2 separate regions of the Homo sapiens genome follow, and region 2 is linked to region 1. The links come from fine-mapping of genetic effects on gene expression. Tissue or cell type: spleen. Region 1 holds a variant in brackets; the other region holds the start of a gene. All regions are shown on one strand. Distances are between the middles of the regions.

Region 1 (5,142 bases):
TACAAATACTCACTCCTGCGTGCCCAGGCAACTCGGTTCTGGCTGAAGAAACCTGAGAAGTTTCAGGGCAGCTGTTTAGGAGGAACAAACAGCTAGCACAGCCCATTGCCCCGGAGCCCGTCTCCCTCTTCCTGCCCGGAAAGTGGACAGGATCGCTGGAAAATGGAGCAAGAAGCACAAGGAAAAGGACCGCATGGTCAGGACAGCAGAGCAAAGAGACAAAAGCGTTCGGCTCAGGTGGCAGCACCCAGGCCTGGAACAGTCTAGACTCCCTGACAGCTGATTCCTGTCTTCTCTTGTTTCAGCTGGCTGCATTCTGAATTGATATAAGTGGTAACAGTGGAAAGAGCCCGAGATGGGCCCTTGGGGCTCCCAGGCTCTTGTCTTGGCTTTGTGTGGCTCAGGGAAAGTCACGGCCGCTCTGTGGGCCCTGTTCCTTCATCTGTGGGGTGACCCAGAAGGCCTCCAGGGTCTCCTTAGGCCCTTCTGTAGCTCAGATTCAAGAACCAGAGCTGGTCCCAGCTGAAAGTTCCCGAGATGGGCATGAGTGGAGGGTTTCAGGGATGGGGCAGGAAGTCACCTTGTGAACAGGTGACACCTGGGGTTGGGGGTCTTCTCAGTGTTCAGCCAAAAGGAACCCTTGAAGCACAGGATTTGAGGGGTCTGCAATATTCAGTCCAGTTGTTGGAAGCATTTTAACATCCCAAAGGGGAATTGTTTCTAAGTATCTCTTTGACTTCGACCTTCGGATTCACATTTGTCCCTGGAAGAAGCCCCAGGGGATCTCTGCAGACCCGTTCCCGGCCCCACACGTTTTGTAAGTTAGGTGGGATGGCCGGTTGGAGCTGCCTCAAGAGAGAAGCCTGAGGCCCTTTTAACTGGTGGCAACCAGGTCATGAGGCAACCTCTGTGATGTGTGGGCCAGCTTAGGCCTGTGTCACGTGGCAGAGCCCTGGTTCTGGGGGCAGAGCCATCCCCTCCAGAGTACAAGGTCTGAGACTGGGGAAGAGGAAAGAGCAGGGTACTGTCAGTAAAGAATGAAACAATAGAAAATAGATGCAGGCTGCCCCAAACCACACCATCCTCCACCCTGGCCCAGCCACAGCCCTATCCTGGTGTGGATTCCTTACAGCACCTGTCGGTTCTGTGAGCTTTCTAGGGAGGCGGGAGGGAGGGGGCCTACTGTCTCAGAGGCAGAATGCACCAAAAGCACTTTTCAAAGGCCATCTGTGGGCAGAGGCACTAACTGGAGACTGCAACAGATGTTTTCATGATCGAGCTAGTGTGAGTCGGCTCAGAACAGTCACCCTCCACAGAGGCACCTGTGAGCCTCCGTTAAAGAGGACGATTGGCCACATTCCACCACGAAGCCTCTGGGATTCTGCCTGCTCCCTCCTTCTCTTCCTGCCCTCTTTGGAAGGCCTCCTCCAGACTCCAAGCCCAGCCTGTGATGGAATCACCGTAGCCCCAGTAAACCAATCTGTGACCGTGGGACACACTGCAGGGGTGGAGAGGAAAGCTTGCCTTTGAAAACAGTAAAATACATTCACCTATGTCTCTTCCCTTGGCAAAAAACTGTGTGTGTGTGTGTGTGTGTGTGTATGTGCATGCACCTGCATGTGTGTGTGCGTGTGTGTCTGCATGTCTGCGTGTCTGCATATATGTGTCTGTGTGCTGTATGTGTGCGCGCATGTGTGTGTGCGCATGTCTGTGTGTGTCTGTGTCTGCGTGTGTCTCTGTGTGTGTATGTGTGTCTCTGTGTCTGTATGTGCGCGTGTGTGCATGTCTGTGTGTGCATGTGTCTGTGTGCGTGTCTATGTGCGTGTGTGTCTGTGTCTGTGTGTCTATGTGCATGTGTGTGCATGTGTGCATGTGCATGTGTGTGCATGTGTGCATGTGCATTTGTGTGTGTGCATGTGCGTCTGTGTACGTGTGTCTGTGTGTGTCTGTGCTTGTGTGTGCACGTGTCTGCGTGTTTGCGCGTGTTTGTGCATGTGTGTCTGTGCATGTCTCTGTGCATGTGTGCGTGTGCGTGCGTGTGCGTGCGTGTCTGTGTGCGTCTGTGTGTCTGTGTGTGCGTGTGCGTGTGTGTCTGTGTGCGTGTCTGTGTGCGTGTGTGTCTGTGTGCGTGTGTGTCTGTGTGCGTGTGCGTGTGTGTCTGTGTGTGCGTGTGTCTGTGTGTGCGTGCGCGTGTGTGTGTCTGTGTTAGGGGCAGGGGAGTTGCAGTTTCACTGCAAGGCATAGTTTTAAGAAAGGGAGGCTGACTACAAATGTGTACACAATGGTGGATACATGTCGTTATGGATACATGAATCCAAATCCACGGAGGGACAACTGTGGGCCCTGAGTGACAACGCTGTGTAAAGGAAGGGCTGTGAATTGTGACACACGCACCACTCTGAAGGATGTAGTGAGAGCTGTGCCTGTGTAGGGGCGGGAGGTAGATGGAAAAATCTCTGTACCTTCTGCCCAACTGGCCTGCTCTTTAAACTGCTCGTAAATATAAAGTAAGTCTGTGTTTTTTTAAAAGGCCTCACCCGGCCAATATATAG[G/A]CCACAGTCTGATAATGGAGAAACTACCCCCATCGCCTCCCAACCCCCTTTCTTATTATCCACCCCTGACCAAGTGCATGAGAATTGTCACCCCTATGGTCATCTGGCTGTGGGTCTCTCCCCTTCCAACTGTGAGCTTGACTTCTTCGATCCCACCGTCTCAGTTCCTGTGCTGGGGCCTGCAGAGAAGCAGCGGCACTAGGCCAAGCCTTCCTTCCCACCGGGATGCCCTCGGCCTCCCAGCCGCCTTCGGCCCGAGTTTCTTTAGCCCACTTGCCTCCTGGAGGAAAAGCCGAGCCCCCTGCAGAGCTGCAGGCCGTCCTCAGGCCCCCCAGACTCCAGCAGGAAGCCGAGCAGACTGTCATGGGGACGACTAGTCACGACTTTAGATATGGACTCGGGGCAAGAGCCCCTCTCTGCCTCTCACACAGAACTTCCCGAGGAGAAAGCTGTCTCCTCGTGTGTGTGATTCTGCTGCCCTGGCCCCTTGGGGAGGAGCCCTGGATTTCCTGAAAATGAGGATCTGCCATTGCAATGAGGCAGCACAGTACCCCTGCTTGCTGTAGGGATTGTTCTTGAAGACCAACCTGCTGAAATGGACCTAAGACAGCAGCTGGACAAATGGCCAAGACAGAGGTGTCATCGTGCCCGTGCCTCAGTTTTTTGTAATAAGAGACATACTGGAAACAGCCTAAATGCCCAGTATTAGGTTGGGTAAATGAAACACGGTTCATACCTTCATTCCCAGTGGAATGCAATGGATGATGGTCTACAGCTGTTAAATGAAGGGTGCAGCTACATTTACCGATGTGGAAAGAGTTCCACGGCATATTGTTGAGTAAAAAGAGCAGGTTATGAAACAGTATATAATCCCATTATCATAAAATCTCACATACAAACTCACACGCACACTCACACACACAGAGCTGTCTGGAAATCTGTTCACCAAACTGTTAACGGTGACTAGCTCCAGTTGGTGGAATTTAAGGGGTAATTTTTACTTTCTTTAAACTTTATTTTAGTTTCTTTAACTCTTTGTTTTGAATTTTAAAGCCTTTTAAATATCTAATCAATATCATTTTGGAATGAATAAATAAGCAAGCAAATACAAAGTAAAAGAGCTGGGCACAGTGGCTCACGCCTATAATCCCAGCACTTTGGGAGGCCAAGGCAGGTGGATCATCTGAGGTCAGGAGTTCAAGACCAGCCTGGCCAACATGGCAAAACCCTGTCTCTACTAAGAATACAAAAACTAGCCGGGTGCGGTAGCGGGCACCTATAATCCCAGCTACTCAGGAGGCTGAGGCAGGAGAATCGCTTGAACCCGGGAGGCAGAGGTTGCAGTGAGCCGAGATTGCGCCACCGCACTCCAGCCTGGGCGACTTAGCAAGACTCCATCTCAAAAACAACAACAACAACAAAAAGTAAAAGTAAAACTTCCACTGTCCCAAGCACAGTCCCAATGTCACCTCTCAACTCTGAACAACGCAGGTGGCCTCAATGAGGAGGCTGAGGAGGCTGCGGAAGGAGCTGCAGCTTGGGGCTACTCAGTCCTGGATGTGGACGTGGGGGATGTGGCCCTGTGACCAGCTGTGTGGCCTTCAAGCTGTCGCTTAGCCCTTCAGAGCCTCCACGTCTTCCCTGAGTGCCTGCCTGTGGGCTGGCTGGGAGGGGATGCAGGGAGGCACCCACAGCCCAGAGGCTCCTCAGGGCTCCACAGCCCACAAACGTGTGCCTGAGCAACGTCCTCTCCAGCTTCCCCAACTGCTAATGGTCCTGAGTGCACACTCCTGCCAGGCTGGGGCAGACGCAGGAGGAAGAAAGGGAAGTCTAGGAGACAAGGGCATCCTGAGGAAAGTAGACGAAAATCCAGGCCCAGCTGGGTCAGCGACAGGTGCCCTAGCATCAGAACCTGGGAGGGCTCGGGGGAGGAAGGGGAGGGCCTGAGCCCAGGATGAAACAGGCCGCTTCGGGCAGCGTGGGCCCCAGAAGATCTCCTCCAGCCTCCTCCATCCACTACCCTTCGCTTATTCACACTGTTGGCTCCAGGGCGCTCCCATCCCGCCCAAACCCCTCTCCCTAGTTCTCGGGCTTGTGTAGGATGCTAGAGCTGGAAGGGACCGCGGTGAATCAGCTTGGCCAATCAGCTCGCCTCACCCCCTCACAGTTCAGGAAACCAAAGCGTTTAGGAGACAGGGCTTCCTGCTGATGAGGACGCAGCCATCACAGCTCCGGACTTGAACCCAGGGTCTGGTTCCCGGCTGTGGCGTAACAGGACACAGTGTGCGGGACCAGCCTCCATCAGCACATCCCTCCCACCAGCTCCCCACCCGCTCTCCGCCGGGCGAGTGGGAACAGCTGTGCCACAGCCATGTGCCTGGTCCTGCTTGCCAGCTGGCCGGCAGGGGACGCAGCACCAAGATCCCATTTTAGAGTCTGTTCCTAGGATCCTTCCTGGCACCAACTGTCACAGGTTGGGTTCCCAGGAAAACACTCGAGGACGGAGATTTGTGTGCAGGCTTCTCAGGGAGTGCTCTCACAAACAGTGCCTGCCAGGGGGTAAGAAGCCACGGGACGGGCAGAGAGAGGA
Region 2 (5,142 bases), 35 kb before region 1:
GTTTGTGGGTTAAACTACTGGCTTATTACTCTCTCATTACATCCCACCCATTTCTCTGGCACACCCAAGTATGTCCGGACCCCAGAAATGGCAGAATCCTGGCTCAAGCTGAGGCAGACTTCCCCATTCCACAAAGGTGATGCGCGTTCATGCCAACCCTGGGCCAACGGGCCCGATGTAGAATCCCTGAGAACCCAGAGGCAGCAAGTTCACTGATGAGTCACAGCTGAATGACACCCAAGAGATAAGGGAAGAACTTCATTGTGAAAGAGCCCAGCAAACCTCTTAGGTTATGGTTGTTCTCACTCCCTATCAGCGTCACGTGGAGTTTTGCCAAAGGAAGGACTTAGTCATCAAACAGATCCTGCCAGTCATCTGGTGGCTCCTGGAGTGTGCCAACTGAGCCTTTCTATCCTCGTGGTCAGGAGAACGAGGCTTGTTAAGGACTCTTCTATTTATTCCATCTTCTTAGGACAAGCCATCAGCCCCTCTAGCAAGGCTGCCTGCTAGTCCATTCGGCACCTTTGTGCAAACTAGGAAGAAGGGATCCATCTGGGGGGATGGAGAAACAGCTTCCACAGCACAAGTCCTCCAGAGCAGACAGGAGACGGAAAGTATGGCACGTCACGGCCATCATGACCTACCTTTTACATGTGGGGAACAAGCCCAGAGAGGGCGACGAACTCGCCCAGGGTCTGTAAGTCGCTGGTTTTTAAAAAGTAGAGCTCGAGTCTCCTGAAGCCCAGCCCATGTTCCTTCCCCTGATCCAGTGTGTGATAAGCAGTAGCTTCATGGCCCCATAGGAGGGAGGCCTTCCTTCCCCAGGGCGCAGAGCAAGCTCAAGGACAGACAAACTCAGAGGGATGTCTTCTCTCTCACTGTTGTACTTACCCATGTCAGAGAGAGACATCATTTCTGAGTCTCAGAGGGGCTGATGACATAAAGGTGAGGCCTAAATGGAGGCAGGTGACTAACAATGTCTTCAGTTCATTCCCCGCATCCCCAACCACATGGGGAGTGCCGCTTTTGCCCGCCTGCGACAGTGGTTCTCAACATTTGCTGTGCCCCGAAATAAAAACAGATTGTGGGCCCCGCCCCCAGAGCTGTCGATCCAGTGGGTCGGAGGTGGGGCCTGAGCACTTGCATTTCCAGCAAGTTCCAGGGTGATGCTCACGTTGCTGGCCTAGGGACCACACTGAGAACCACTGTCCTAGAAATACGGTCAACCCACCCTTTCCTCCCTCACCTTCTTCACTCTCTTCCTCCCCTTCTCCGCCTGTTTCTCCTTTTCCGCTTCCTCCAATTCCTCTCTGGTCCTCTTCTCACCTTCCAATCAGCTGGCTCTGCCACTGACTGGATGCCTGACTCGGGCAAGTCACCTCCCGTCTCTAGGCCCGAGGAGAGGCAGTCGGCTAGGCCGAGATGCCCCTGCCCGGCTCCCCCCTCGCCAGGGCGCTCGGCCTGGGCTCCCCCGTATCCCAGATCCTCTGTGCAGCTGTGGCCGAGATGCCCCTGCCCGGCTCCCCCCTCGCCAGGGCGCTCGGCCTGGGCTCCCCCGTATCCCAGATCCTCTGTGCAGCTGTGGCCGAGATGCCCCTGCCCGGCTCCCCCCTCGCCAGGGCGCTCGGCCTGGGCTCCCCCGTATCCCAGATCCTCTGTGCAGCTGTGGCCGAGATGCCCCTGCCCGGCTCCCCCCTCGCCAGGGCGCTCGGCCTGGGCTCCCCCGTATCCCAGATCCTCTGTGCAGCTGTGCTGGGAGGGAGCTGCTGCGTGAATGAGATCATCCTCCAGCTGCCCTCCAGCCCCGACTCTGGGATTCTGACCTCTCCTTCCTTCCACGTCTGAGCTTTTCTCTCTCCAGTTAGACACGGTATCTGGAGTCTTTCTAGGGCGCGAGGAGGGGAGGATACCCTGGAACGCGGGGTAGGAGGCTGAGGCGAGAGCCCCGAGCAGCGGCGCCCGGGCCCGAGCGGGAGGCCTCCAGCAGGGGGCGCGCCGGGGCCGCCCAGGGGCGGGGTCCGGGGTCGGCGGGAGGTGACCTGCGCCCCAGGGGCGTGGATTCCGCCCGGGAACTCGCGGCCGCACTTAAGGAGCTCGGGCCAGCGCGAGGGGGAGCAGGGAGGAAGCCCGGCTGCTGCGGACCTCCTCGGACCCGGACCCAGCCCCAGCCCGGCCCCAGCCAGCCCCGACGGCGCCATGCGGGGTCCGAGCGGGGCTCTGTGGCTGCTCCTGGCTCTGCGCACCGGTGAGGCCCCGCTGTGAGAGCCAAAGGCGGGCGGGGGTCCCGGGGCGCCGCGGCCCGGCTGAGCAGGTCCCGGGGCTGGAAATGTGCCTGAGCCTGCGGCTCCGGGGCAGTGAGACGGGGGAGGCAGGGGCTCGGGGTCGAGTGAGGACGGCGGAGGGAACTAGCACTGAAGCGCAGACGGGGAAGTCTGGAAGGCTTCTTGGAGGAGGCGGCCTCGAACACCCGAGGCTTCCGACGCTCCAAGGAGAAGCGCGGGCTGAGGCGTGGTGGGGAGGCCTCGGGGTGTGGAGAGGAGCTCCCGGAGGGCGGCCCCTCCCGACGGGCGCAGGAACTCAGGAAGACTTTGGGGGCTCGGAGCAGCTCTTTCTCCCGAGCCCCCGCGGGAGAAGATTCAGAGGGACTGACCGGCAGGCGCGGGAGTCCGCCCGGGGGTTTCTGGCACATGCAGGGATGGAGGTGGAGACGGAGGCCGGGTCCCCTCGCGTCGGCGCCCCGGGGAGTCAGGGCCCGGGATGGTGGGACGGGAGGCGGGACCTCGGGGAGCGGCTCGCGGGGATCGCGGGCGGCGACCGCCGAGGGGATGGAGTTCGTGGCACCGCTGTGGCCGCAGGCGACGCACTCATCAATGCAAACGATGAAGCCACCGCCACCCCCGCCCCGTCTGAACTTTGCAGTTTCCCGCCTGGGTGGTGGGGGGCTTGGAGCGCTGCGGAGGGGAGGGCAGTTCGACTTCCCAGGCCTCCGCCAGGAGTGGGGAGGGGAGGGCTGTGGCGGAAGCTTCAGTCTCGGCCCTTGGGCTGGTGGGGCTGCCACGGGAGGGTGACCTGGTTTCGGGCGGAGTCATGCGTTTCCCTCCCTCCTGCACAGGCCTCTGGCAGTGCTGGCTGGGGCAGGGTGAATGGCAGAGGAGCTCAGGCCTGAAAGTCATCGGCCCCAAGGGGCTCCAGCACCCCTTCCTCTGGGCCCCTAGCCTGGGAGCTCTCGGGGACTCTGACCCGGTCAGATCCTGAGGCATAAGCAGAAGTCCACTGAGGATGTGGGTGTCTCAGGCTCTCTACAAGGGGGTTTACTTTCAACACAGAAGGTGGGGTTTTTATCTGCTCTCTCAGAAGATGAAGCAGGCTCAGAGAGGCTTGAACCTACCCTGATGGGTCCTCAGCCTCCCCTCTGTGCCTGCCGTCTTCCCTTGGCAGGGCCTGGCACTGTGCCCACCGAGGGTGGCTTTGCAGCCAGCATCATCGCAGACACTCCCCGAGGGGACAGGGCTCCTGGAGGGCAGCCCACCCACAGCCCCCTCACCTCACTCTCCCGTCCCAGTTCATGAGGAAGGCCCAGGGACACTGCTGGGTGAGGGAACCTACACGAGCACCCTCTTCGGGAGGCCTGGAGAGGGGAAGAAGCTTCCACTTCCAGGGCCTGCCGAGACTCCCTAGCCAGTGCTCCCACCAGGTGGGGGTAGCTGAGAAGCGACCTGTAGACCCTCCCATTCCTCCATAAAGGGCCGGGTTCTGAGCCATTCCATTTGCCAGCAGCCGTGCTCCTGGTCAGAGAGGCCCTGAGCACAGGAATACCAGCCCTTCCCCTGTCTCTGCGCCTAGTGCCTCCCTGTGGGAGGGCAGGGCTGCCCTAGAGGACTGGCTGTCCAGGCGAATGGGCTCACACAGAACTGCTGGAGCCACCCTCCATGGTGGGCCGGGGCTGGGCAGGGCGGGGGAGCCGGGCCTCACGGTCCCCTGCCCGCAGTGCTCGGTGGCATGGAGGTGCGGTGGTGCGCCACCTCGGACCCAGAGCAGCACAAGTGCGGCAACATGAGCGAGGCCTTCCGGGAAGCGGGCATCCAGCCCTCCCTCCTCTGCGTCCGGGGCACCTCCGCCGACCACTGCGTCCAGCTCATCGCGGTGAGTCCTCTCCCTTCCACCCTGCCAGACAAGAGGGCTGTGACTCAGGAGGGAGCACACAACAGCCCCATTCACCAGGAAAGGAGCCGACCTCGCCCTGCCAGGCCCGGCCGATAGGATCTCCCGAGTCTCCCTGGCCACGAGGCCAGCTTGCCTCCCGCCGGGCCCAGGCCAGGAGGTGGGAGCCTCAGGAGGACCCGCTGCTCAGAGGGCGCCAGCAAAGAAAGGCACCTGAGAGGCTTCCCTTCCACAAGGCCCCTGCCAAGGGGGCCCAGATGGTGGCGGCCCCTCAGTGGCCGCAGGCGGTTACTTGCTCATCTTGCCATGGGGCTCTCCAGAATGGGGCTTGTGTGGTTTCTGGGGAAGGAGGAGCAGGGGCTGGACTCCCAGGTGGGTGAGCATGGGGTAGGAGAGCAGGTCTGCTGAGAACTGCTAAATGACACTGACAATCCTCCGAGGCACCACCAGAGAGTGGCGTCCCTCCTGGGTGGGTGCAAAGAAAGCTGGCTTTTCATTCCAGCTCTGCCCCCCATATGCCCCCAAGACCTAATCCAATCACAGGCCCACACTGGGGCCAAGGCTGTGGGTCAGGCTCCATGTGAGGGCAGAAACCCCAAGCACAGACCACCTTAGAGAAAAAAAGCTAGAAAACCTAGGGTAGCAGTAGAGGCGCAGGGTGGAGGGACAGAAAGCGAGGGAGACTCACTTGTCACTGCGCACCGTTTTCTGCTATCTGATTTTTTTACTATGATATCTGAGTCCTGCAAAATCAATGATTAGTATTTTTTTTTTAACATTATTAGGAAAACAAGGTGAATCCCTGGCCTGGGAAAGGGGGAGAGCCCTGGGCTCTGGTTGGGCTCCTGGGACAGATGAGAAGGACAGCACAGCCCTCTGGGGCTTGGGGTGGGGCCCCAGGCCATCTGGTAGGTGTCCCGAGTTCTTTGCTGAGCAGGCCAGCTGGGCCAGGCTTGGCTGAGCCACATTTCCTTGCAGGCC

What was found. PIP is the estimated chance that this variant, and not a neighbour inherited with it, causes the effect.
Region 2: MELTF starts here. The variant in region 1 is fine-mapped to the expression of MELTF in spleen (GTEx, PIP 0.97).

What each region holds. Positions count from the first base shown.
Region 1 is chr3:196,991,935-196,997,076 of GRCh38, reverse strand. It overlaps the pseudogene RPSAP30. Among named protein-coding and RNA genes, the nearest start is that of MELTF-AS1, 8.4 kb to the left of the region's middle. The variant G/A (reference allele first, on the strand shown) is at 2,553.
Region 2 is chr3:197,026,757-197,031,898 of GRCh38, reverse strand. MELTF (melanotransferrin) reads left to right here and starts at 2,082. Exons shown (of 16, transcript NM_005929.6): 1 at 2,082-2,245; 2 at 3,989-4,143; 3 at 5,140-5,142. The coding sequence starts at 2,197. RefSeq lists enhancers at 67-361, 1-665, 1,053-1,689, 1,690-2,326 and silencers at 1,860-2,349, 2,400-2,449, 2,640-2,819.